Linked DNA regions of Homo sapiens: regions 2 and 3 are each linked to region 1. The links come from fine-mapping of genetic effects on gene expression. A gene starts in region 1. Each other region holds a variant in brackets. All regions are shown on one strand. Distances are from middle to middle.

Region 1 (7,841 bases):
TGGGTCCATGAATATTTGTTAAGTTAATGAAGAGTCAAAAGAACTCCACTTTTCCAGCCCATTTGCTTCTTCCCAGACCCACCCCAGTGGGGAAGCAGAGCCTGGTAAACCAGTGTCCCTTACACCTGCTCAGAGTGGGAAGACCATAAATTTCTCAAATCAGTATAAAACAAAATTACTTGTGATCTACTGAACCATCAACTCAAAAAAATTAAACAAAACCTCCCCTTTTCCAACATTAGTGTAGACAAAGGAAGCCCAGGTGACCCTCACTTGGGAAATGATGGCTCCAGATATCAGGCCTTGGAGAGAGCTCACAAGGCTTTGGAGTCTAGTGCTGGGAGCAGTCTCAGAGGTGGTCCAGGCACATGTGCTTATTGTGGAAATGAGAATCCAGAGGCCAAAAGGGGAAGGTCACATAATGAGTCAGGGTGTAGTCGTGACATAGTGGCCAGAAGTGGGAGAGGGACTCCTGTCTCCTTTGCGTTCTTCCCCACACCTAAGATTCTAGAACTGGTCACTTCTGTCACACTCTGTTAAACCAGTCTGCGAATGTCCCCTTGCCTCAGTCTTCACATCTATAAAATGGAGGGGGCCACATGTCTTAACTTACCTCACAGGAACATTTTAAGGACCAGGTAGGATAATGGATGTGGAATTCTTTGGAAAGTTCAAATTTGAGGGCACCCATGGAGATGGTTGTAATTTACAAGACAATCTAAATAAATCGGCCTTTCAAATGTGGGCATGGTTCCTAGTCTTGCAATCTAGCCCCATTAATATTCATTAATCAACTCATATGATAAGGATTTACTGAGCACCTACTACTGGCCAGGCACAGGGCCAGCTGCTGAGGATACTGTGGTGCCCCCTTCAGTTTATTCCCTACACAGCAGCCAGAGTGAGCCTGCTAAGTAAAGTTAGATCCCTTCCCTGCTCTGCACAAGACCCTGTCATAGCTCTTCTCATTGCGCTCAGAGTAAAACCCAACATCCTGCAATAATCCCAAGACTCGAATGACCTGCCCCCTAAATCTCTCTGATCTCAGCTCCTCCTACTCTCCCCTCACCTTCTCAGCTGCAGCCACGTCCTCCTCACCACCGCAAGGCCTTTTGTCCTCGCCATCCCCTCTCTCTGCAATGTCCTCCCCCTAGATACTGGCATGGTTCGGTCCCTCTAATCTTAAAGGTCATGACTGAAATGTTAGTGGGGTCCTTCTGGGTACCTTCTCTGACAGTTCAGCTCTTACATTTCCTACTCCTTTCCCTAGCTTTAGTGTTCTCCTTCATACCCTGTACTATCCAAATACCGTATTTTCCCCATTTGTGTAGTCTATTGTCTGTCTCTTCGCTAGACTATAGCCTCCATGAAGGCAGGGATTCTTGTCTGATTTATTTACATTGAGTCTGCTGTGCCTAGGGCAGTGCCTGGCACATAGTAAGCACTCATTAAATATTTGTTAAATGAATGAATGGTGAACATATAGACAAGGTCCCTGCTCCCATGCAGCCTGCATTCTACCAACAGAAGGTCTGCTGGGGGTGTGGGATGAGGAGGGGGGTGGTGTGGGCTACAAACCGTGAGTGACATGCATCTTCAGGGCCCCTTTTCTCCACGGGTATCATGGTGGGATTGCATTCTCACCAGTCTTGAGCCACCACAGTTTATAATAGGAGTTAACTGCCTGCTAATTAGCAGCTGAAGCCATTAATTGGCTATTTGTTAGAGCCCGAATTAATAAACTGGTCTTTCAGCGGGGTCATAACTCTCCCGTTCCTCACCCCTCCCAGTCATCCTTCCCCCACATGACCAGAAAGCGTCTTGCAATGAGATTGAATCAATACCTGCCACTGTATGATTTTCAGAGACAATTTCTCTCACAAGGCGACAACACCATCTAGCAAAGACTCTTCCTCTCTCTCTCTTTCTTTCTCTCCTCTTCCAGGCTGTCACTCGCCGGAGGCGAGCTAGTGGCAGGAGGAGATGGGAGAGCTTTCTAGTAACATGCTCTCACAACAAACCGCAGTTGCCCTGCTTGCTCAATGCCTGGAGCCCCTGGTTCCCTGGCCCCTGGCTTGTGGTCAGCAACGAGTTCCTGAAACCTCCTGGGGCCCAAGTGCTAGGTTTTCTTTGAGGCAAATATATATATATATATATATATATATATATATATATATACACACACACATATATATATATATATTTTTTTTTCTAGTGGGAAGTGACCTAGAATGATCTTGAGTGGAACCGAAGACTTGGCAGCTGGGTGCTGACCACCAAGCCTCCAGATAGCCTGACCTCAGGCTCATCCTGTGCCCTATGGCCCATGTCAGGTCTAGCAGTCTAGCTCTCATGTCCCCCCTGCCCTTGGTGCAATTTGGGGGCCAGAGTATTGTTCTCTGTGTCTGTAAAGGGAACAGGAAACAGTTCTTGTGGAAACATTATTTGATACCTAGGCCCTTGCCCCTCTTCAGTATAGAACAGTGGGAGAGGGCAAGGTCGCCGAGCCAAGCTACTGAGGTCAAAGCTCAGTTTGGCCCCTTAGCAGCTGAGTGAGTCACTACATCTTCCTATGTCATTCCATGAGAATAACAGCCCTGTCTTACATAATGGTTATGAAGATTAAATAGTTAATACAGTGCCTGGCATGTGGTGTCAGCTGTTATTCTTATTACTCCACTTCTCTCTAGGAAGACAGGGATCTTACCTAGTTTACATCTGGGGAAACTGAGGCCTAGAGAGGTTAGGACTGGGACGCAGGACTGATGTCTAGGGCTCTTTCCCTTCTCTGAGGTTGCCTCCCATTGTCAGACACTGGGCTGTGTTGAGGCAGCAGGCAGGGCACACTTGGGGGAGGAGACAGCTGAATTTACAGACACACACAAACAGGCTGTCAAGGTATTTACACTGCATACAATTAGCTGCAGAGTATTCACAAGTGGATTAGCTACAGCAAATGTTCAATCCCAGCCTGGCTAACTTGGTCCTCTGTTCCCCCCACCCCGCCATCATGAACCTTCTTTCTCCTCCAGGCTAGTGTGTGAGTTTAGAGAGGGCAAAGTCAAGAGAATGTCAGCTGAGTCAGTGCAGTTCTCTGTCCCCAGTAACTCACCCCAAAGCCAAAGAGGAGCAATTGACTGCTGTTTGGTGTTGGAACAGCTAATTGGAAAATCAGAGCGCAGTTTCGCACGACATGGAGAAGTACACATTCAGCTCAGAATGGGCAAAGCCAGGAAGAGCCACAGTCGCTGTGATCACTCCCTGAGAGCTTCCTGGAAGGGGTAGAGACTTCCAGGAACCCTCTAATAATGGGAAGAGGATGACAATAGAAGAAGCTATCCCTCATCACTCCCTCAATTGGCACCACTTCCTTTTCTGACTGGATGGGGGAGGCGGGAAGAGGCATGGTGGCTGTGTATCTCTGTGGGACAGAAAATGAATTTTTTGCCTTTGAGGTAACAGTCCGGGGCTGGGGAGTGAAAGGATGGCTACCCTGAGGGTATCCCAGGTCTGTGATATCTGGCCATGATGGGCATCATTCGTGAATTCACTGAACATGTCTGCAGCTGGCATCTGCTGGGAGCACCGCACTGAGTCTGGACTTCCTATCAGCCTTGGACCCACGGGGTAGAAAGGAGAGAAAAGACGGAAGAGGGCACAAGGGAGGCGCAAACGAGTGGAGGTGGGCTAGAGAATAGGAATCTTCGGATGTTCTCGGGCTTCCTGAGATGGACAGAAAGGGGGCTGAGAAAGGAAGGTGGAACCCCCCCATGCCACCAGGCACTTCCCGACACCTCCCGCTCCTCTTCCAGCAGTCAGGAGCGCGCGCTCCGGTGGGGCTTAAGCCCTGGAGAGTCAAGGGAGGAGAGACCCAGCAGGAAATGGGCCTGGGGAAGGGACGGTTCATTATTATTATTTTAAAAAAATTTATGTTTCAATTTATATGCAGACTAACCTTTTTGGAGTGTGGAGATCTTTGAGTTTTGACAAATGCATAGAGCCGTGGAACCACCATCAAGATATTGAGCAGTTCCAGGGGGCGAAGGGAGGGGGGGTTCGTAGTCTCCCCGCTTGTTAGCTGCTGCGATTGTCTGCGCTCCCACGGGCCGACCTAAAACAATTCTTGCGCACACGCTGAGATAAATAACGGCGACAGGTGGAGCAGGTGAGATTAGCAGGACCCGGGTTGGGCGCGGGGCGGGATCGGAGGCGCGGGGGAGGCCACCAGCCTCGCTTGCCAGCCTACGCCCCTCCCCGCGGGCGTTTGGGAGGAGCGTTCTCCGCACTCCTGCTCCGCGAGGGCCCCTTCGAGGCGGCTGAGACCCGAGTGCCGGACTCCCGCCGCTGGAGCGGGGCTCGGGTTCGGCAGCCGGAAGGAGGTGTGCCCCCGGGGCGCTTGGGGGCGCCTGAGGTCCCGAGGGGAGGCAAGATGGGAAGAGTGGCTAGCCGAGGAAAATGTGGGGTGACTTAGGGAAGCTCTGGCGGAGGGGTCGTGCGAGCAAACCTGTTGGCAACCTGTGGGCCGCGGCAAGGGCAGGAGCTCTCAGCGCGACCTCTCCGCCAGCTGCTCCGGCCCGGCCCCAGCACCAGACGCCTGGAAAGGGGCGGGGGCCTCTCGAGCCGGGCAGACAGCCTTGCAGACCCACAGCCGCGGCCCGTCTCGCGCGGCTGCAGGACCCCAGGAACCGCAGGCGCCCGGCCTTTCCCTAGGACCCCCGCTTCAGTCCCGCCTCCCCAAAGTGCAAAACATTTACGAAGTGTGCAGTGCCCTGCGGGCATGGGTCTCCGAAGCGAGCGGCCGTGTTTGCCCCGCGGGCTGCTGGCAACGGTGCACCCGGCTCGGCCAGCTAGTCTGGGTGTGCAAGGCTGGAGAACAGCGAGTGTGCGAGCGCGCGGCTGCAGAGCCCCCGCCGAAACCCAGGTCCCTCCGCCACTGTCCTCGGGATAGATGGATCCATTTCTGCTTTCTGACATTTTCCTGCTGGGCGGGGTTGGGGGGGAATGTTAGGGGGCGGAGAGAGGAAGAGAGAGAGAGGGAGAGGAGAAAGGGAAAGAGAGGAGAGGAGAGGAAGGGAGAGAGAGCGAGAGGGAGAGAGAGAGGAGAGAGAGAAGAGAGAGAGAGGAGAGAGAGAGAAAGAGAGAGAGAGAGAGAGAGAGAGAGAGAGAGAGAGAGAGAGAGAGAGAGAAAGAGAAAGAGAAAGAGAAAGAGAAAGGCAGGCAGTCAGCTTCCCCCAGCCCTGTTTTGTTTTCTCTAATTGGTCCTGGGGGAGGCGAGGAAATTGGACAGAGGCTGGGCCAGGCGAGCTGGGCTGCCTTTAATTGGCTCCTTTTTTTAACTGGAGGGGAATCAAACAGGAGAGCGAGCGACAACGGGTGGGAGAGCGAGAGACCGAACGAGGAGACGCGAGGAGGAGGGAGGAGGAAGAGAGGGAGGGAGGCGGGAGGAGCGCGGAATGAAAAGCTCGGAGGGGCGAAAAAGCAGCACAGCAAAGCCCAAGTTGCTGAGCGAGCGGAGCGCTCCCGCGGCCCGGAGCCGAGCGGCCGCCGCGCCCCGGAGCCCGGCCCGGCCCCGCCCGCTCTGGGCCCCCGCAGGCCAAGGCCGCCGGGCGGGGGCGGGGACGACCAACTTGGGGCGCGGCGTAGCCCCGCTCTCCCGAGAGCTCGGAGCCCGGGAGGGCTACGGCCGCGGCCAGACGGCGGGAGAGGAGCGCGGCGAGCGGAGGCGGCGAGCGGCGCCCGCGCCGCAGCCCCGGCCTGGGCGAGAGCGCGAATATTTTTCAAAAGACTCAAACTTTCCTCCTTTCCCCGTTTTCTGGGGCCCTTCTTGCCTGGAATTGCTCTCCAGATTCCCGCGGGGCGCCGGGCTGCTATTCTTCCCCCGGGTTTATCGGCGGCTCGGCTAACTTCACGGACCCGGGGACCCGCGGCGCTCGTCCCTCGGCCGAACCCAGCCCGCGCTGCTCCCCGGATCAGGAGGGCCGGGCCCGGGGCTGCTTCGCCGCCGCGAGTGCTTTCAGCCCGGCCCCCTGGAGTCGGGCCGCTGAGCCCACGGCAGCGGCCGCAGGACTGGAAACAGCAGATTGATTAACTCGAGCGGAGCCCCGGCCTCCCCGACTCCGCTCCGCTGAGGGGCGGCCCCAGTGCGGGGAAACGACAAGTTTGTCAGTCGTCCGTGGCCTGTTGGATCGAAGCGCCGCCTCCGCCGCCGAGAGGTCCCCGGCGCCTAGCATCCCGCGCGGACGGCCCTGGGTACCCGGGGCGGCTCGGCGGCCGGGCTCCTCGGGTCGGGGCGCTGGCTGCTGTGCCGGGCGCGCCGAGGCACCCGGGGCTGGGCCAGCGCCCCCTGCGTCCCCACGCGGGCAGCGGCCCCGCCGGAGGAGAAACACGGGTCGCCGCCACCTCCGCCTCTTCAGTCTCCTGGTCTTCGTCGCCGCTCTCTCTCTCACCTCTCAGGGAAAGGGGGGGACATAGGGGCGTCGCGGGGCCCCGGCGAATGCGCCCCCCGCCGCCTCTCGGGCTGCGCCGCCTCGCGGGGATGAAGCACCGGCCGTGAAGATGGAGGTGACCTGCCTTCTACTTCTGGCGCTGATCCCCTTCCACTGCCGGGGACAAGGAGTCTACGGTAAGAGCCCGCGTCCCGCTCCACCTTGGCTTAACCTCGCGCGGAAACTTTGCAAGAGGCGCAAAGTGCGCGCTGCCGGGGTTTGGTGGAGACCTCGACTCGGACTCTGGAGTGGATGCCCGCGTCCCCGCCCTCTCCAGGGCGCGTGGAGACCGAGCTAGCTGCTTCGGAACACAGGGGCCGGTCGTAGGGTCTGGTGGGAAGCCGGGATGTCAGGAGGAGGCACCCACTTTCCCACACCCTGCTAGAGGTGGGAATGATTAGGAACCCTTGAGAGCACCCGGTCGGCTCGGGAGACCCGGACAGACCCAGTCTAGGACTGGTGCAGCGACTTGCACCGAAACCTCGTCCTGGCTCGGCCTCCGGAGTGGAAGCCAAGCGATGCATGAGCCGGAGTTGCCGCGCGGCTTGCGGGCGAGCCGGCTGTCAGCACCAAGGCCGGGCGGCGGGCTCGCCTTCCCCGCTGTTGCTGCGGCTTCGCTTCTTCTACTCAGGGCTTGACACCCTGATCAGGATGCCGGCATCCCCTGGCCCTGGCGCCTTCGACCCCGGCATCCCTTTTCGGACCTTCCCTGAACCAGTTCTTCCTGTCCCCGGTTCTTGGCTACAAACCCCAACCCCACCTTCCTTCCTGCGCGCACACACAGATACATTCAGCCACCATCCCCAGAAAACGCAAACACGGCACGCACCCACCGGGATACGTGTCCAAACTCTGCCTCCTGCCACGCAGCCTTGCTCCTGCGTCCGCACGCCTCGCTGTGGTTACCAAGGGAGACTCTGGTTACCCCTTCCCCCTTCCATCCTGTGGGTTTTCCCAGGGAAGGCCCGGGGCAGGCATCATCCATTCAGTCACCTGGGCTCAGCCTCCCGCAGTGCCTTAACCCCACAGCACAAAAAATCATTCTCAGGGGCCCAGTGGCCCTTACTTTGCTTTCTCTTTACTGCAGGATGGTTTGTCCAGGTCCCTTTTTAGTGATGTGTGGCTGGGGCGGGCAGGATTCTCTCTTTCCTTTTCTGTTGGGTGGAGGGACTAATGATTCCTCTTTTAGATCCAGGGGAGGTTGACCTGTTCTTTGTGGGGTAGTATAGGCACTGACTACTGGTTGCCAGCCTCAGGTGCTGAGGCTAAAGCACCCTGGAGGGTGCTGACCCATCTGCCTGTGCCTGGCAAGAAGAAGGGGTGTCCTGAAGGGTGTCTGAGAGGTGACATGCTCCT
Region 2 (8,417 bases), 60 kb after region 1:
AAATTAGCTGGGTGTGGTCGTGGGTGCCTGTAATCCCAGCTACTTGGGAGGCTGAGGCAGGAGAATCACTTGAACCCAGGTGGTGAAGGTTGCAGTGAGCTGAGATTGTACCATTGCACTCCATCCTGGGCAGCAAGAGCAAAACTCCATTTCAAAAAAAAAAAAGGAAAAAGAAAAGACTCCAGCAGGATGAGATGGAAGTGGAGGGGATGGAGAAGACAACTAAGAGGATGCAAATATGGAGTGACTGCCAGGTGATGTCCTGGGTGCGCCGCATCCTTGATTGCATTAACCCTCACAGCCACCAGATGAGGGAAGTGTTACCATCCAACTCAGAGACGTCAAGCATTTTTCCCAGACCACACAGTAAGCTAGATCTGTGTGACTTCTCCAAGCCCTAAACATGAGATCGGAAGGGTGCTTCTTTGTGGGCAGTGAGAGGAAGTCCTGCTTCCCAAGTGAGGGAGTGAACATAAGGAGTGCCCTTTGGCAGGCAATGGTACTGGTAGGAGCGTCACATAACCAGTGTCAGCCATCACTTCCAGAGCTCCTGCTCAGTTCCAGGTATCAGGTGCTGTAGTGAACGAGGTGGACGAGTTCCCCATCCTCTTGGCATTTACAGGCAAGTGGGAGAGACAGGTATTAAACAACTCATGCTACCAGCCAGGAGTTAGTGACCCCTGTGGCAGTGGAAGGACAGGGGCTGAGACTGGTGGTAACAGGGAGACCTGCCTGACCCCGCGGCATGGTCATGGAAGACTCTGCTGAGGACATCATGATTTTTTTAAAATTGTTTTTGTTTGTTTACTTGTTTATAGGAAAGGTAATACATTTCACAAAGGCCAAAAGGTACAAAAGGGCACATAATGCAGACGCCCTCCCATCCCAGTTGATCTGCCAAAGGTGATTAATAGACTAGATTTTAGGGCAAATTTTCAGAGATACTTTATCCAATAGAAACCAGTACATATGGCCGGGTGAGGTGGCTCACACCTGTAATCCCAGCACTTTGGGAGGCCGAGGCGGGCGGGACACCTGAGATCAAGAGTTCGAGACCAGCCTGGCTAACATGGCGAAACCTCGTCTCTACTAAAAATACAAAAATTAGCCAGGCTCACGTGATGGCAGGTGCCTGTAAGGAGGCTGAGGTAGGGAGAATTGCTTGAACCCAGGAGGTGGAGGTTGCCGTGAGCCGAGATCACGCCACTGCACTCCCAGCCTGAGTGACAGAGTAAGACTCCGTCTCAAAAAAAAAAAAAAAAAGAAAGAAACCAGTACATATATATATATATATACATATATATAATCTATTTCCTCCCATTTTACACATACCATCCTATACTTGCTTTTTCCCTCTGAATTGTACATCATCTTGGTGATTATTCCTTGTCAGTCCACAGAAAGCATCTTCACTGTTTTCCTCAGCCGTAATGGTAGACGGAGTGACTTTAAGCAAATGTAGATATAAAGGCTCATCGTGGAGAAGTTTCCACAGCTAGGGTGATGGGTCAAGCTGAACTGATGAACAAGAATGGAGTGGGATAGAAGATTCTGCATCCACTGGGGCTCCCAAACCATTTGCACAGATCATTTTGCCCGTGGCTGGGTCTGGACTTCATAAGAAGCTTCTTCTGGGGTAGGTGAGAGTGGATGACCAGGACTCCACCACCCTGCCGAGTCCTCTCATTTCCATTTGGCTTCCCCAGGTAGGACAACCAGTTCATTTGGGTTTACTCCCATCTTTCCTAATTTTAGCACTGGCTATGTTTTATGTGGTGAATAAAGCTAGCCCTTAAAACTCAGTATTTCTCTAATACTGATGCTTATGACAAAGTTCAAAAAAGAAAAAAAGAGTGAGTTAGTTTAAAGAAAGATATTAGCACATGTGTTACATAACTTGGTCAAGATAGCGAAAGGGGAGATTTTGGAGGCATTAGCCTGGGGGTGCTCAGCCCATTTGCCCATAGCCATAGGGACCTGGAATTCTGGGGTAACTGAGGGGTGCTAGAGGAGAAGGAGGTGATCAGAACTTGGCTAAGAGTGCCCAGACAACACCAATGCCCCCTCCCTGTCCCTTCCAGCTCACCTCCAGCCCGCAGTGATATGAGATACCTGGCTCTGAGGGAAGGGGAATCAATCTTAGATGGTGCCCGTTGGCTGGCATTTCCATGGCACTTCCCATAGACAAAGGTGTACCATCTGTGACACCAGATAGACAGACCCCCTGGTGGGAGAGAGCCACCAA[A/G]TGTTACCTGCCTGGGATGAAATGAGTTGGCTTGGACCAAGGAGAGCCAGCAAGACACAAGGTCTGGGGACAGCTGGTGCCCAGAGCTGCCAGGCAGAGTGGGAGGGGAGGAGGGAAGAGGAACTAGGATAGCAAGAAACACCCTGTCCCCCATGGCAAAGCCAGGCAGAGGAGCACATTGAAGTTTCCCGGCATGTGGAGGCACCTTCGCCAGCAGGGGGTGGGACCTTGAGAGGCTGTGCCAGCACCCAGTAGAACAGGAGGTACTCACCCTGGCTTTCACAGGGCCCAAGCCCCAGTGTCTTCCAGGATCCTCACCAGCCCCAAAGGAACGGCTCTCTCTTCTCCCTCCTGGAGATATGCCCCCTGTCCCCATTCCCCTGGGATCTAGCCTCAATTCCCATACCATTTCTTCCTCCTCCACTGCCCTGCCCCAAGGACACTGATGGGGAAGGCTGCTTTTTCACCGTCCCCTCCCCTCAGCACCCCATCAGCTCCAATGTCCCCCCTGCTCAGGGGCTTCCTGACATCCCTTTACAGAGGACATCCAGGACCCCCAACCTTCCTTTTGAAAAGGGCCTGTTCAGGCTCAGTGGCTCACGCCTGTAATCCCAGTGCTTTTGGAGGCCAGGAGTTCTAGACCAGCCTGGGCAACATAGCGAGACCCCATCTCTACTAAAAAACTTTTAAAATTAGCCAGGTGTGGTGGTGCGTGCCTACGGTCCTAGCTACTTGGGAGGCTGAGGTGGGAGGATTATTGAGCCCAGAAGTTTGAGGTTGCAGTGAGCCATGATTGTACCACCAAGACCCTGTCCCCGCACCGCCCCCTCCGAAAAAAGAATGAGCTTTGCTCACTACACTCCTCCGTATCTGTCTTGCCACATCTAAAGCCAAGCAGAACTGTATGCTAGTGCCTGGATAGACTCCAGCTTTCCAGCCTCTGGGCTTTTGCTCAGCCTATTCCCTCTGCTTAACATGCCCTCTTACCACATTCCCCTGGCCAAATCCTTCCCACTCCTCAAGGGCTGTCAAAAACACCACCTCCTCCAGAAGTCTTCCTAGGTTTGAGCTGGGAGCCCTCTATCCTTCCGGTGAACTCTGAGTCCTTAACGTACAGCTCCCCAGGCCCAGACCACTCTCTGCTCTGCGGTATGGCAGTCCCTGGGATTCACATCTTCCCTTCCCTATTTGACTCCTTGCAGGAAGGTCTGTGTCAAACTCCTATCAGTTCCAATAATTAAATTCTGAATGAAGAATTTTCCGTAACTCTTATCAAGGACTTTCATAGAATCTCAGAGTTGGAAGGACCTCAGGGTTCATGAAGACCAAATCCTATCATTCATTTATTCATCCATCTATTCATTCACTTAACTAATTGAGCACCATTATATGCCAGGCACTGTTCTAGGACACTAGAACAAGACAAAGGCCCCTGTCCTTGAAGAGCTTACAGTCTACTGGTGCCAAGCCTTATAAAGAAAATAATGCAGAAAAAAGAACAGAGAGCTATTTTACATGGGGTGGTCAGGGACTTCCTTGAGGGAGGGAAGAATGTTCCAGGCAGGGGCAACATCACAAGCAAAGGCCCTAAGGCAGGAACTGGCCCTCAAGTGTTGAAAGAAAAGCAAGGATACCAGTTTGCTAGACCCGAGTGGCAGCAAATGAGATCAGAGAAGCTGACAGCGCCCAGATCAGGTGTGGAAGGCCAGGAGAAGGACAGCGATGGGAAGCCTCAAAGGAGACTGAGCAGAGGGGGTAACATGATTGGAGACAGGGGTCCCCTCCGCAGCAGCCCTGCTGGATAGTCCTGTCCAGGGACAGGATGCTCCCCCAAGACAGCCCACTCTTTTGCTGGGCAAATCCGATACATCCAGGGTCTTCCTTAGATGCAGTTCAAATCTGCCTCCTGCAAGCTTTCACTTGCTGGTGTTTATTCCACCCCATGGGGAATGCAGAGCACGGACAGTCACACAGACTGTCCTCTCTGGCCTTCTGGACCCAACATACTCCTCTTGCCAACTGGGTATTACTGGACCTTACTGGGCCTTACTGGACCCAACATACTCCTCTTGCCAACTGGGTATTAAACATTTTAAAAGCCCTTCATCTCCCTCCACAAGTCATGTACTGCCAACAGGGACACACTGTTTTCTTTGGAAACCCTGCTGCGTGCCCAGACAGAGGTCCCACTGCCCTGGGACAGCTCCCTTGCCTAGAGGGGAAGGGTAGGGTGTGTGTGCATGTGTGTGTTTGGGGTTGGGGAGATTAGCTGATTAGCAGGGCAGGAAAGAAATGAAAGAAAATTTGCAAGTCATCCTGATGAAATGAAATCCTGCTGAAGTCTTCTCTTTCCCACACTGAGGGTGTCCCTGCAGGAATGGGACATTGCACCCAGCTGGGCATGGGGAGGAGGTCCTGTCAACAGGGACAGGGCTGCAGGCTATGGTGGGAGAAGAGGGCTTGGTAAATGTGGAAAGGTGAGGGTGCCCTGGCCAGATCTCACTGCCCACTGTCTTCACACCCACCGCAGGCTCCCTCAACCTCCTGGTGCGGTCCCGGAACAAAGGGGCTCTGGACACGCACGCCTGGTCTCTCAGTGGCAATAAGGGCAATGTGTGGCAGCAGGCCCATGTGCCCATCAGCCCCAGTGGGCCCTTCCAGGTGAGTCCGTAGGGCCCAGAGGACCCTCCCCGGCTTCGGTGGTTGCTGTGGCCAGGAAACACTTAGGAAAACCTTGTCCTTCTTCCTGGGGGCTAAGGATGGAAAGAGTCAGGTTAGGGGGAACTTCCAGGTAGATTAAGGGGAAAGGTGGGGTCGAGGGAGCACTCTGGTACCCAGCAGAACCTCCTCAACCCTTGCTCCTTGCTTTCTGACCCCACCCCAGATTATTTTTGAGGGGGTTCGAGGCCCGGGCTACCTGGGGGATATTGCCATAGATGACGTCACACTGAAGAAGGGGGAGTGTCCCCGGAAGCAGACGGATCCCAATAAAGGTGCAAGACGGGAAGGAGGTGGGGGAGCTGAATCTGGAGGGAGCTGTGCGTGGCGGGGGTTCCTGTCTGTTGAGGGAGGGTGTTTGGGTCTGAATAGGGGTTCAGAATGTCTGAGTGATGGGAATCATGTGGCTCTGACTGTGTGAAGGTGTGCCCCACACTCACTCAGGCTGTGTACTTGTGTAAACAATGAGAAGCCTGGCCCCCACCCTCGTGATGAGCATACTGACCTGTTCACGGTATCAGAGCGCCTCCTGTGCCTGTGTCTGAATACATCTGTGCGTACCTCTGGCTCCAGAGGTGAACGTGTGCCTTCCAGGGCCAGAGGTTTCCAATACTAACAGCTCCTACTTACTGAGCAATTACTCTGTACCAGGCAAGGCACACAAACTTGTATATGCATGTTTCACTTACCTCACAACAGTTAATCCTCACAACAGTCCTTTGGGGTAGTACACACCATTGGACCCATTTTACAGATGAGGAAACTGAGGCCCACTGAGGTCAAGTAAATTGTTCCAAGTCTTAGTGAATGTGAACCCTGGCAGGCTGAGCTAACCCCCACCCCACCCCACGCCACCTCATGTCTGTGCGGTGAGTTTGTCTGTGTGCACTGAGGCCAGTGCCCACCCTCAGGCCCTCCAAAGAGGTGGGCAGAGTAACAGTGCCGACCTGCCTGCCACTTCCTGCCCCTGCCAGAGCTGACCAGAGCCCTGGCCTGTCTCCTCTTTCTCCCCTGTTGCAGTGGTGGTGATGCCGGGCAGTGGAGCCCCCTGCCAGTCCAGCCCACAGCTGTGGGGGCCCATGGCCATCTTCCTCTTGGCGTTGCAGAGATGATGAGAGCTGTGTGGCCACCCCCCCAACCTTGCCCCCGGCACACCAAAGTGTCCACATTGTACCAAAGACTGACCCCCGCCAGCTGGGGTGCCCAGGGGCAGGGCCGGCCCGCCAGGGAGGGGGCCTGCATTGGCTGCAAGGATGAGCAGAGAACAAGGACAGAGGCCAGGCACTGAGGCCCTGGAGACAGCTGTTCCACTTGCACACACGCACACACTCATGCTCACACACACAGAGATATATTAAAGCACAAGTTTCTATCTGACCTGCCAGCACCTTCTTTACTGCAAAGACAGGGGACTTGCCTGAATGGCATCCGCCAACCCAGGGACCTCGGCGCAACATAGGCCTTGTCCTTGCTGCACTCGTGGTGTGCTTCTGACTTTACCCTGTCCCCTAAGTCAAGGCCGAACTCCAGCCTGGTGGCTTTGCCAGAAGGGAGCCAGAAGTGGGGCAGACATGGAGCCCCTCCCTTGGTCAGACTCTGGGACTCCTGAGATGGGAGAGGCAGGGATCAGAGGACGAACAGGTGGGACTTTGCGAGCTCTGTGACTGTCCCACGTCCAGGAGACAAGGAAGGTAGGGCACCTGCTGCACACGATTCTGTCCAGAGTGAGCACTGGATGGTGGAGACCATAGGTCACCCCAGATTCCTTGACCTATTTCTGGGACACCATATTTCCCTCCTCAGTGTGCACCCTTTGAAGGGACCCAGCACAGGGTCTTGGGCCTGGGCAGTCTGAAGACTGATAACTTCCCCACTCCACCCTACAAGCAGTGGGACTCCTGAGAACACGGTTCTCTCCTAGCCTCAGCCCCCAGCTGGGTCTCAGAGGAGCTGGGGGAGCGGTGGCCAGCCCATTTTCTGGGGTGAGGCTTGACTTGGAGAAAGGCAGAAGAGACGTCCCGCTTCTGTGATTTGGTGCCCCCATATCAGACAATGAATTTGGAAGTGGAGAGGGGCCTTCATTTCTTATCTACTTGGCATGAAAGGGTGCCCTGGATAGGAGGGTGTGTACAGGGCAAAATGCCAAAAAGCACTGTCTAGTTGAAAGTTCCCTTCTCCACCCAGGGGCAGTGAAGGAGGAGGGGCTTATAGAGCTGGGATTGGTGGAGGGAGCAGGTGCCAGTCCCCTCACTCTCTGGGAGCTGTGAAAGGGATCCCTGTCCTTGGGTCCTGGGTTAGGCACCTGAGATTGACATGATGGGATCTAGATCTTTCCTCCTTGACATCACCTGAGCCCCCACCTAGCCATCCATGGGAGAGAGAAGGCCCAGCCCCTTCTAGAATGACTCTTTAGGCATGCGTGCATATGTGTGTATGTGTTTGTGCCCGTCTGTGTCTAGGTACCACCGTGGGTACATTGTTGGGCAGGAGTGTGTGCAAACACAGGTCTGTGTGTGCAATCTCACATATCTGCCTGTGAGACTGGATTGAGACCCATTCGTTTCTATGAATGTCCGTGTACGTCAGCGTGTGTGTCCACCTTCCTGAGTGATGTGTTCGCTTGTAGGGTGCTGGCTGAATAGACTCTGTCCAGCCCTGTTCTGTAGTCTCAAGCTGCCTGCGATGGCCTGAAATTCCACCTTTCATCCCCTATGGATGACGGAGAGCTTACAGATGACCCTATTGAATGCAAGCACCTTTGGTGAGGAGCATCACAGGGCTCCTTCTGGAGCATTTGGTGGGGACAGCTGCAGAGAAGAGGCCTGGAACTCGGGCAGCACTGCAGTGCCAGGAGGCAGGCGGGGAACCGAGGCAAAGGCTGCCCATCTCCCCCTGCCAGGCCTGTGTGATCATTATCACCAACAGCTGGTGGGTGGCCGGGCCAGGATGCAGCGGGGCCTTCTGATGCCCAATCAGCACGGCTGCCTTCCTGACCCAGTCAAGGCCTCTGTCTGAAATGAGTCGCTCCAGGTTCTCAGCATACACTTCCATCGCGTCTGTCGGGTATTGTTCCTTAACTGTCCCATCTGTGCAGAGTCCATTGCCCCAACTAGACTGTGAGCTCCTCCTCTGAGCCTTCCAAGTCCCCCCTCCACCTTCGCCACCTCCCGCTCGTGCCCAGCACAAGTGAGCCTGGTGTGGAAACCACTCCATTGCCCGGTGGAATGGATTCTGTAATCAGTGGTTCCTGGCCTTGCCTGCAGAATAGAACCACCAGAGTCCTTTAAAAAGTATTGCTGCTTGGTTCCCACCTCAGAGGTTCTGAGTTAATTGGACTGGAGCGCAGTCGGACATCAAGAAATGTTGAAAAGCTCCTTGGGTTCTCCTGACAGCAGGAACCACTGGCCTGGCACCACCTGGGTGCTTCCTCTGTGCCCTCGCTGGGGTAGGCATT
Region 3 (11,152 bases), 46 kb before region 1:
TAAAGCGCTTAGCCCACAGGGCCTCACAGGTAGGAAATGCTCAATTCACATTAGGTATTTGAATGGCTGATGTAGGTGACTGGCCCCCCTGTGACTCACCTTTTGTGTTCCAGTTTGTCCTCACCTCTAATCTCAAGGAAGCTTCTGTCTCTGCTGGTCCTGACCAGTCTTAAGAATATTGCTTCCGGCCGGGCGCGGTGGCTCACGCCTGTAATCCCAGCACTTTGGGAGGCCGAGGCGGGTGGATCATGAGGTCAGGAGATCAAGACCATCCTGGCTAACAAGGTGAAACCCCGTCTCTACTAAAAATACAAAAAATTAGCCGGGCGCGGTGGCGGGCGCCTGTAGTCCCAGCTACTCGGGAGGCTGAGGCAGGAGAATGGCGTGAACCCGGGAAGCGGAGCTTGCAGTGAGCTGAGATTGCGCCACTGCACTCCAGCCTGGGCGACAGAGCGAGACTCCGTCTCAAAAAAAAAAAAAAAAAAAAAAAAAGAATATTGCTTCCAAAGGCTCAAAAGTTTCTCCACGTCTTTCCTTCTAGATTTGCAGTGGGCACCTTCTTAACAACAGACCTCTACTCCTGGCTCCTAAATGTCTGCAGAAATTCTCTTTCCTCTGCTGCTGCACCCCTCCTGCTGCCCAGCCTCTGGTGCCCAGCTGCACAGTGCCCTCCAGCTTCAAGTTTTTTTTGTTTGTTTGTTTTTAAGTTCTGGGATACATGTGCAGAACTTACAGGTTTATTACATAGGTATACATGTGCCATGGTGGTTTGCTATACCCATCAACCTGTCATCTAGGGTTTTTTTTTTTGTTTTTGTGTTTGTTTGTTTTGAGACAGAGTCTCGCTCTGTTCTTCAGGCTGGAGTGCAGTGGCCTGATCTCGGCTCACTGAGACCTCCGCCTCCCGGGTTCAAGCGATTCTCCTGCCCCAGCCTCCTGAGTAGCTGGGATTACAGGCACCCGCCACCACGCCTGGCTAATTTTTGTATCTTTAGTCGAGACAGGGTTTCATCATGTTGGCCAGGCTGGTCTCGAAATCCTGACCTCAGGCGATCCACCCACCTCGGTCTTCCAAAGTGCTAGGATTACAGGCGCGAGCCACCGTGCCCAGCCCCTCATCTAGGTTTTAAGCCCTGCATGCATTAGGTATTTGTCCTAATGCTCTCCCTCCCCTTCAAGTTTCTTACTGCATTTCTATGACCCACCGCCCCCAGCAGTCTTGCTCAGTCCCTCAGTCTCTGTCTCGCTATCTCTGACTCTGTCCCTGTCTTCTTTGTCTCTCATTTCCCCTCCCCATTCCCCCTTTGTTCTGTCTCCCTTAATTAGCAATACTCTGGAACAGAAGTGTTTTTATTATGTTTTATTTATTGAATGGCTTTCAGTTTCCTGTTCTTAATTTAAAAGGCAGATCAATAAGATGCTTTATATTCCTGGTTTAAAACAAAACAAAGCTAAGTTAAGTTGTTCTTTGTTCATGCGGCTCTTCTTTGCATATTTCTTTCTCTGTAGGAAGAAAAGGTTCCTCACCCACGGTCTCTTAATTGACAAAAACACTTAATTCACTCACTGGTTCATTCACTCAGTAAATTATTCAGTAAGAGCCCTAGTTGTGGGCCAGGCACTGTGCTGGACTCAGGGAGTATATTAATCTGTTTTCACGCTGCTATAAAAAACTGCCCAAGACTGGGTAGTTGACAAAGGAAAGAGATTTAATTGACTCACAGTTCAGCATGGCTGGGGAGGCCTCAGGAAACTTAAAATCATAGTGGAAGGCAAAGGGGAAGCAAGACGTCTTCTTCACAAGGTGGCAGGAAGGAGAATGAACACAGAAGGAACTACCAAACACTTATAAAACCGTCAGATCTCGTGAGAACTCACTGACTATCACGAGAACAGCATGGGGGAAACCACCTCCATGATCCAATTACCTCCACCTGGTCTCTCCCTTGACATATGAGGATTGTGGGGATTGTAATTCAAGATGAGATTTGGGTGCGGACACAAAGCCTAACCATATCAGGGGACATAGAGATAATATAAAGCAGTATTCCTGTCCTCAAGTGCTCCTATCTAGCTAGGGAAACTGATTCAGGCACCAGTACATGCCAGAAAAAGTTAGAGCTGCTATGTCAATGTTTATGGTGTTGGCTGTGGTGCAAAGGGGTGGGGAAGGCTTCCTGGGGGAGAGCAAGCTGGGCTGAGAATTCAAATGTGAATAGATGTCTTGACTTGGGTTCACCCAGAAGCAGATCCTAAAACAAGGAAATGAGTGCAAGTAGTTAATTTGGGAGGATCCCGGGGAGTACTGGCAGGGGAATGGGGAAGAGAGACCTGGAGGAAAGGGAGGAAGTCAATACAGAGTACATCAATGAGAGGTTGCCATTTCGGGCAATTGGGGCTCAGTTCCTCTGGGATCCTCTGGGAGACTGTGTAGAACACACCTTAGAGTTATCCCAACTGAGTGGTGAAGGAGTTGGGGTATTTACACTCTTGTCACCTGCCATCCATCACTGATGAGGGCTGTCTTGGGGAGGCATTAATTACCCCACACTCCTGGCCTGCTGCACAGATGGCAACATGGACTCTGGTGGCCAGAGAGAGCCTTCAAGCAAAAAAAAAAAAAATGCAGGTTGTAGCAGTTGGGAGTCAGACTAGTACGCACTGAAGCCGTAAGAATGAAGGAGTGTGGGCTGGGCACCAACATCACCTGCTATGGCAGGTGCTGGGGGAAGGGATGGGCATTCCAGACAGGTGGAAAGTGTGATCGAGGGCAAAATATGTGGTGACCCCAGGAGGCCACACATAGTTTTGTGTGGTTCCAAAATTCAAGTTCAGGAAATCTGTCTTTGTGTAGCCTGGGCCTCAGCTCCCTCATTTATAGAAAGGTGATAAAAATACTTTCCCCACTCATCCAAGATGATTTGCACAAAGCCCCCAGCTTGGACCCTGCAGAACAGAGCCCAATTCAGCCCTTTCCTTAAATTCCTCCACCTCATCTCCTGCCAGCCTGCAAGCCCTGGATATGCGAGGCTATTTATGATGCCCTGTCGATATCTGTCTTGGTGGAGGAGCGTGGAGGGGATGGATGGAGCCTGGGGTCCTATCCATCAGTCACTTGGCTGCAATCTCTAAAGAGATTTTAATTGTGAGCTCAGATTTACTCCAGTCATCAGCAGTGCCCGCCTGCCTCTTTACCAGTAGAGAGTGGGGCCTGCAGGCCCTCTGTGGTTTGCCAAATAGACGTCTTGTAGCAACGCTGAGGAAATATTTGCTGCAGTGAAACAATGTGCCTGGTGGAAAGCAATCGCCCTAAATCGCCCCCTGACAGCCCGCCAGAGCCCTACCAGAGGCTTCTTCCACTATGCGCTCAGCTTTTTCTCCAGAGTTGTGCTTCTGCTACCTACCCAGGGAAGAGGATGATGGCCTCAAACCTGAATTGGAGGGAAACTGAAGCAGGGGCAGCGTTCCCCCTCTTCTGGGCCATGTGGTAGAGGGGACAGTAGGAGAACAAGGTGGCAGGGGTGGAGAGTAGTGTGGGAGCCCTGGGTTAGAAAGACCTGGACCAGGCTGGGCGCTGTGGTTCACGCTTGTAATCCCAGCACTTTGGGAGACCAAGGCAGGCAGATCATGAGGTCAGGAGTTCGAGACCAGCCTGACCAACATAGTGAAACCCCGTCTCTACTAAAAAAAATACAAACATTAGCCAGGTGTGATGGTGCGCACCTGTAATCCCAGCTACTCAGGAGGCTGAGGCAGAAAAATCGCTTGAACCCGGGAGGCGGGGGTTGCAGTGAGACGAGATCATGCCACTGCACTCCAGCCTGGGCGACAGAGTGAGACTCCATCTCAAAAAAAAAAAAAAAAAAAAAAAAAGCAAGACCTGGACCAGGCCCATTCTGAGCAAAAGGTCCAGGGGATGTTAGCCCCTTTCACAGCTAAGAACTCCTGGGTTAAGAGAAGTGAGCCTGAGTTTGTGCAGCAAGCGATACCAGGAATCTCAGCTTTGGCCCTCTGGGTTTTTGCTTAAGGTTCTGTCTTTGGCCCCCCAGCATCCCTTTCTGAACTCTCTTTCCTATGCCTCTGCAGGGGACCAGGGCCCATTCACCATCAGGGTTTGCTTTGGGGAAATGACCTACTTCCAAAGCTTGTGCCTCTGAGTGAGTTTCAGTGGCCTCCTCTCTCAGAGGTGGCCAAAGTCTTCTCTCCACCTGTCGGGTCAAAGTGCTTATATCCTCTGGGGGAAAGGAGGATGAGGAAGAGGAGATGGAAGAGGAGGAGGAGGAGTTGGGGCAGGAGTGGAGAAGAGACACTTCCTAGACTGGGAAGTCACTCAAGGAGCTTCCTATTCTGCCTTCAAGGCAGAATGGCCTAAGTGCATATTCTCTTTAAAGCAGCAGCCTATTTTTGTAAAATTTATCCAACAGAAGCAAAACAAAATAGAACAAAACCACCAGCCCACAAGAATGGCATACTTGATATCTATTGTCACATTGCTGGTGATAGCAAAAACCCAGAAGCCTGAATGTCCATTGATAGAGGCATGGTTGAATAAGTTTTTATGGTCCAATTTTTGAATATCATGATGCTATTATAAAGGAGGTAGGTCTGCTGCAGTGGCTCATGCCTATAATCCCAGCACTTCGGGAGGCTGAGGTGGGTAGATCACTTGAGCCCAGGAGTTGGAGATGAGCCTGGGCAACATGGTGAAAACTTATCTCCACAAAAAATACAAAACATTAGCCAGGCATGGTGGCATGCACCTATGGTCCCAGCTACTTGGGAGGCTGAGGCAGGAGGATCACCTGAGCCTGGGAGGTCAAGGTTGCGATGAGGCATTATTGTGCCATTACACTTCAGCCTGGGTTACAGCGTGAGACTCTGTCAAAAAAAAAATTAATTAATTAAATTTTAAAAGGAGGCATATCTAATTGTTGACTCACAAGGCTGTACATGAAAAAATCAAGTTGCAGAGTGGTAAGTGTGTTTGGGTCCCATTAAAGAAATCTGGGCTGGGCGCGGTGGCTCAAGCCTGTAATCCCAGGACTTCGGGAGGCCGAGGCGGGCGGATCATGAGGTCAGGAGATTGAGACCATCCTGGTTAACACAGTGAAACCCCGCCTCTACTAAAAATACAAAAAATTAGCCAGGTGTGGTGTCAGGCCTGTATATGTTTGTGGATAGGTAAGGAAAAGCACAAACGTGGCGAGAGTCATATTAAGATTAGGGTCAGCTGTGAATAAAAGGAAAAAAAGACCGCCAAACAACAAATGTTTAAACAAGATAACATATTTCTTATGTATCTCTTCTTTAACCTTCTGGAGGTGAGTGGTTCGGGGCTGGTGTGGTAGTTCTACTCCAAGAAATCCTCCAGGTTCCCTCTATCCACCATGAGTGGCCTCCATTCCCAAGGTTACCTCATGGCTCAAGATGGCTGCTTCAGCTTCAGCCATCACCTTAACATTCCAGCGGGTAGGAAAGAGGAAGGCACCAACAGTATCATGTTCCTTCTTCTTAAAAGGTCACTTCCTCAAAGTCTCCTATATTATTTTTCGTTATATCTCATTTGCTAGAACTTAATTCTATAGTTACAACCTAACCACAAGCCGGGTACGGTGGCTCACATCTGTAATCCCAGCACTTTGGGAGGCAGATGTGAGCGGCCCATGAGGTCAGGAGTTCGAGGCCAGCCTGGCCAATATG[G/A]TGAAACCCCGTCTCTACTAAAAATACAAAAATTAGCTGGGCGTGGTTGTGCGCACCTGTAGTCCCAGCTACTCGGGAGGCTGAGGCAGGAGAATTGCTTGAACCCTGGAGGCAGAGGTTGCAGTGAACCGAGATAGCACCACTGCACTCCAGCCTGGCGACAGAGTGAGACTCCGTCTCAAAAAAAAAAAATAAAAATAAGAGGCTGAGGCAGGAGGATTACCTGAGTCCAAGAGTTTGAGACCAGCCTGAGCAACATAGTGAGATCCTGTCTCTAAAAAAAAAAAAAAAAAAAAAAAAAAACGAGAGAGAGAGAGAGAAGAAAAGAGTATTATTTGTATTACTTCTGAAATTTAAAAATCCCCAATAACATAGTCGTATTTTTTAATTATTTATTTTTTGCCCCATTTTAAACATATTCTTAAAAACCTCTTGCATGGCTCTTACTATTCTAGCATGAATTCTAAATCTCCTAGCCTTATACCTAAGGCCCTCTCGGATCTGTCTGGGTCATCCTTTGAGCTTCCTCCTTCCTCCCCGCAGTCTTAATGTGGACACACTGATTCCCTCACTTTTCACCATAAACTCCCTGCCTCTGTGACTTTGCGTCTGGTTCCTGTCTCTAACATGCCCTTCCTGCTCCCCACTTTGTCTTTACAAACGCCACACGAAAGTTGTTGCCCGGGAGAAATCTTCCCTCCTTGCCTGGGCAGTCCTCTGCCTGCGCCTCTACTGTCTTCAGCACTTTTTTTTTTTTAAGACAGTCTCACTCTGTCACCCAGGCTGGAGTGCAGTGGCTCGATCTCGGCTCACTGCAAGCTCCACCTCCCGGGTTCACGCCATTCTCCTGCCTCAGCCTCCCAAGTAGCTGGGACTACAGGCGCCCGCCACCACGCCTGGCTAATTTTTTTTTGTATTTTTAATAGAGACGGGGTTTCACCGTGTTAGCCAGGATGCTCTCGATCTCCTGACCTCGTGATCTGCCCTCCTTGGCCTCCCAAAGTGCCGGGATTACAGGTGTGAGCCACCGCCCCGGCCCTTCGGCACTCTTTCTGAGCACGCACTGTGCGGTCCGGTGGTTTATTTCTTCTGCATCCACTTTCCGCACTAGACCAGGGGCTCCTCCAGGACAGGGACTGCCACTCATTTGTTCCTCTCCTTGGGCACTCATGATAGCACCTGTTATATAGTAGATGTTCAATGAATCTGCCCGATGCTCTCTGCAAGCATTTGTCTCATTTGTCTTCACATCAACCTGTGAGGTCGGTATCATTATTGCCCCATTTTACAGGAGTGGGCGGCAATATTGTGCAGTGGTTATAGATGAGAGCCAGCAGCCCTGGGTTCCAGTAATAACATTTAGGTAAACTACTTAATTTGCTAAAGTCTCAGTTTCCTCACTTATCAACTGGAGTTCAGGTCAGCATGCCATAGGCGCTCAATACATGGTAGAGATTCCTAGTAGATGCCTGGGGCTGGGATCTTTCTCTTTCCCTGCACTCTTTACCCCTCTTCCAGTTGGGTAGAGTCATGTCACCCACATCCCCTGCCCAGCCCTGCGGCCAGTTCCCAGGTCATGTTAGGCCAGGCCCAGCCCATCCTCCCACCAGCCCTGATGTGGAAACTGGAGGTACGAGGGAAGAAGGAGGAGGGTGGAAGTTTGATGGCCCTTAAGTGACCTAACCCTCCGTGCATCCTCCCAGAGGGCACAGCCTATGCAGTGTCCCTGGTACTGGCTCCGGTTCCCTTCCTATTGATCAGAAGGGACAACCTACACACAGGACGTCACATCATCCTTTTGGGATGGGATGAGCACTGGGCAGAAACAGTTCTTCAGGACCCTGAAGAGAACAGGTGCCCAAAATGGGGAGAGACCTTTACCCCACAGCCCCCAGTGTCAGCTGATGTCCACCTCAGCAGCCTGCTCCACAGCCTCTGGCTGGGCAGCCCTCACCCATCCTCAGGTACCCATTCACTGGGTCTGCCACCCCAGGAAGAGAGAAATCATCCTGAACTTTGGGGAGAGGGACACCTTCAAGAAGAGTTTTCCATGCAGAGGAACTTTACTGGAGGAGGGAGATTCAGGTCTGAGTGCAGGAACCCTGTAGACCTGCTCTATAGATGTGTAACTGGACTCTATATACACAGGCTAGCAGTGGCCTCTTGGGAACCCCTTAGCTCCTCTCCAGAGTCCTGTGCAGTCAGAGGACATCAAGCCTCCCACCCCCCCTCGCATACATTGTAGGCTATGGGGAGAAAAATGGCTGTCCTCTGGCATCGGCTGTGTCCGGAATCAGCTTCTCATTCAGTGGTAACTTCTGTGCTGGGTGAAGTGGCAGTCAGCAAACTGCAACCAGGTTCTGACTTTAGTCACACACACCCCTGCCACCAAACAAACATGAGCAGAGGCATTTGGGAGACAGGACTGGGGGAATGAGCATAAAGTATTCTGGAAGGATCCCCTTTCCTCCTCTCAGGTGGACCATGGCTCTGCAGCTGGGAGTACGGAGAAAATTATCTGTTCATCTCCTCCCCTCCCCTCCCATGGTCTTTGTGGGTGAGAGAGGAGAGCCAGTGACCTGAGGCAGGTGACCCTTAACTGGGCTAACTGGGTGACTTTTGGGTTCTGTGCTTGGAAGCCCTGGCTGCCACATGTCACCCTCTTTTGTCACTTGTTTCCCAGCTTCTGAGATTGTGTCTTTTTTTTTTTTTTGAGACTGAGTCTCGCTCTGTCGCCCAGGCTGGAGTGTAGTAGTGCGATCTCGGCTCACTGCAACCTCCACCTCCCGGGTTCAAGCGATTCTTGTGCCTCAGCCTCCTGAGTAGCTGGGACTACAGGCATGCGCCACCATGCCCAGCTACTTTTTTTGTATTTTTATTAGAGACAGGGTTTCACCATGTTGGCCAGGCTGGTCTTGAAGTCCTGACCTCAGGTGATCTGCCCGCCTCGGCCTCCCAAAGTGAGCCACTGCACCCAGCTGAGATTGTGTCTTAATAGCCAAGCCGTAACTGTTCCTCCAGGGTGCCCCCTCAGATGGACGGGGGTGGTGTGGATGTAGGAACCTCGGCCTCCTCTGCCAAAAAGGGGCCTCCTGAAGGCCAGCACCTGTGTCCTCTGGCAGATGGGAAACCCAGCAAAGGCTGGGAGAGGACAGCTCCTCCTGTCACACTGGACACTAATTCCCAGAGGATGAGCCCTGCCTGCCCCAACAGACTGGACAGCCAGCTTGGCCTCAGGGGTCCCCCAGCTGGGCTGGGGTGGTTTGGGCAAGAGGAGGCAGGAAGGGGGCTCCGGCCTCTGTCCTCTGTTCACAACCAAATTGCCTCCTTCACCTTTCCCAGGTTGTGTTTACCTTGTCCTCCTCCCACTGCACTGTTCTCCCAGCCGATCTGATTGCTGTAATTAGTTAATCAGTAACTGGCATAATTTCCCCCTGATTAATGCAGGAATAATCACCCGCCAGGGCTGCCAGCAATTTGCTTATCAGAGTCACTTTGAAACAGCTTTGAAAATGAACGATTGGCACCTTCCTCGGGGTTAAAATTAGAGCCCAAGGAGGCCGCCCTCTGCTGTGGGCGTCTGGGACTGTCGGGACCAGCAGGGGAGTCCCAACCCCACTGTCGGAGCCAGGGAACACCACGGTTCCCATGTCTGGCTGGCTCCAAAAATGTTTGCTGAATGGGGAGAGGATGGATACTGTTTCTACCTACTGTGCACTGGCTACACGGGGTTCCCAGGAACACAAGGCAGACAGGTGGAGGTGCTGGGGGGTCCCTCTGGGATGAAGCCAGCAGGTAGAGACCAGGACAGGAGGCTTGTCCTGGAGCAGGAGGAAAGGGCAGTTGATAAAGGGGCAGAGTAATAGGGCCAAAAGGAGGGTCCAGCTCTAGTTAGTAATAATAATAATAGTAATAGCAAAATAGCATCATTCCCACCTTTTATGGAGTAGAGGAACTGTACTAGTTCTTCATATACGTTATCTCATTTCCCCCCCACCCTTTTTTTTTTTTTTTTTTTTTTTTTTTTTAGAGAGCTTCTCACTCTGTCACCTAGGCTGGGAGTGCAGTGGTGTGATCTCGGCTCAGTGCAGCCTCTACCTCCCGGGATCAAGTGATTCTCATGCCTTAGCCTCCAGAATAGCTGGGATTACAGGCATGCGCCACCATGCCCGGCTAATTATTTTGTAGTTTTAATAGAGATGGGGCTTTGCCATGTTAGCCAGGCTGGTCTCAAACACCGTGCTGGTATTATAGGCATGAGCCACTGTGTCTGGCCTTATTTAATCTTTATGCAATAATAATAAACACTTAATGAGCACATACTATGTAGCAGTACTGCTTCGCTTTTACAATTTTATTTCCCCCCGCCCCCCTTTTTTTTGAGATAGGGTCTCACTCTGACAACCAGGCTGGAGTGCAGTGGTGTGATCATAGCTCACTGCAGTTTCAACCTCCTGGGCTCAAGCGATCCTCCCGCCTCAGCCTCCCAAGTAGCTGAGACTACAAGTGCACGCCACTACATGCACCGACACACCTGGCTAATTTTATTTTACTTTGTAGAGACGAGGTCTCACTATGCTACCCAGGCTGGTCTGGAACTCCTGAGCTCAAGAGATTCTCCTGCGTCAGCTTTCCAAAGTGCTGGGATTACAGGCATGAGCTGCTGCGCCCAGCCTAAAATTTTATTTTTAATTATGGAAAATTTAAATAAAAAGAGAAATGCAATAATAAACTCCTATGAATTCAACAACCAGTTTCAAGTTATCCACATTGTTTTAATGTTGTTTTATCTATCTCGCCCTCCATTCTTGTCCTTTTTGTTATTCAAGTATTTTAAAACCAGTCCCAGACATCATATCATTTCACCTGTAAAATGAGATGCAGGTAGTAAGAGCCTCTGCCTCATAAGACTGTTAGCAAGGATTTGATGAGATCCTGCATGCTCAGATCATAAGGCACACAGACACTCCAAAGGTATTTGTTATGATTATTAAAGCAGTGGGGGAGTGTTAGTTTGCTTGCTTGTTTAAATCTGTAGGGTCTAGAGGAAAAGTGAAAGACAGCCAGGGTGTGCAGCAGATATCCTGTGTACTGGTTACTTGCCCAAGTCTGGTGAGACAAAGCACTCACACGCACAAGTTACATGAGGCAGATTTATTACTTACAGATAGGCAGCAGGGGCAACAGAAGCCCAGGACCCATGATGAGCTGGTCCCCCAAGACCCAGGAAAGCTATCCTGGGTGGATGGAGTCTTGTTTGTGTATGCTGCACTTGCACCATAGCTGAGATTCCAGAAAGCAGCCTGCCCTGGGTTTTATATCCTGGAGGATGTAGCAATCGCCCGGCTAAGCAAAGATGGGCATCCTGTTTTTAAGAGGGACCCAGCTGGTCTAGCTAGTCCCTCCTTTTCTCAGGATGCTGCATTCTCAGCACATTCTGCAGTTATTTCTG

What was found.
Region 2: its variant is fine-mapped to the expression of MDGA1 in cerebellar hemisphere (GTEx, PIP 0.98). The same link has a PIP of 0.9 or more in cerebellum.
Region 3: its variant is fine-mapped to the expression of MDGA1 in whole blood (TOPMed, PIP above 0.99).

Annotation. Positions count from the first base shown.
Region 1 is chr6:37,695,526-37,703,366 of GRCh38, reverse strand. It overlaps MDGA1 (MAM domain containing glycosylphosphatidylinositol anchor 1), which reads left to right and starts at 5,484. Exons shown (of 17, transcript NM_153487.4): 1 at 5,484-6,622. The coding sequence starts at 6,556. RefSeq lists silencers at 4,373-4,442, 4,463-4,532, 5,399-5,528, 5,549-5,618, 5,679-5,808 and 3 more and enhancers at 6,131-6,860, 6,861-7,590.
Region 2 is chr6:37,635,026-37,643,442 of GRCh38, reverse strand. MDGA1 (MAM domain containing glycosylphosphatidylinositol anchor 1) reads left to right here. Exons shown (of 17, transcript NM_153487.4): 15 at 4,776-4,906; 16 at 5,130-5,238; 17 at 5,984-8,417. The coding sequence ends at 6,075. Among named protein-coding and RNA genes, the nearest start is that of MDGA1, 59 kb to the left of the region's middle. The variant A/G (reference allele first, on the strand shown) is at 2,246.
Region 3 is chr6:37,740,279-37,751,430 of GRCh38, reverse strand. No RefSeq gene overlaps it. Among named protein-coding and RNA genes, the nearest start is that of MDGA1, 48 kb to the right of the region's middle. RefSeq lists an enhancer at 629-1,450. The variant G/A (reference allele first, on the strand shown) is at 5,701.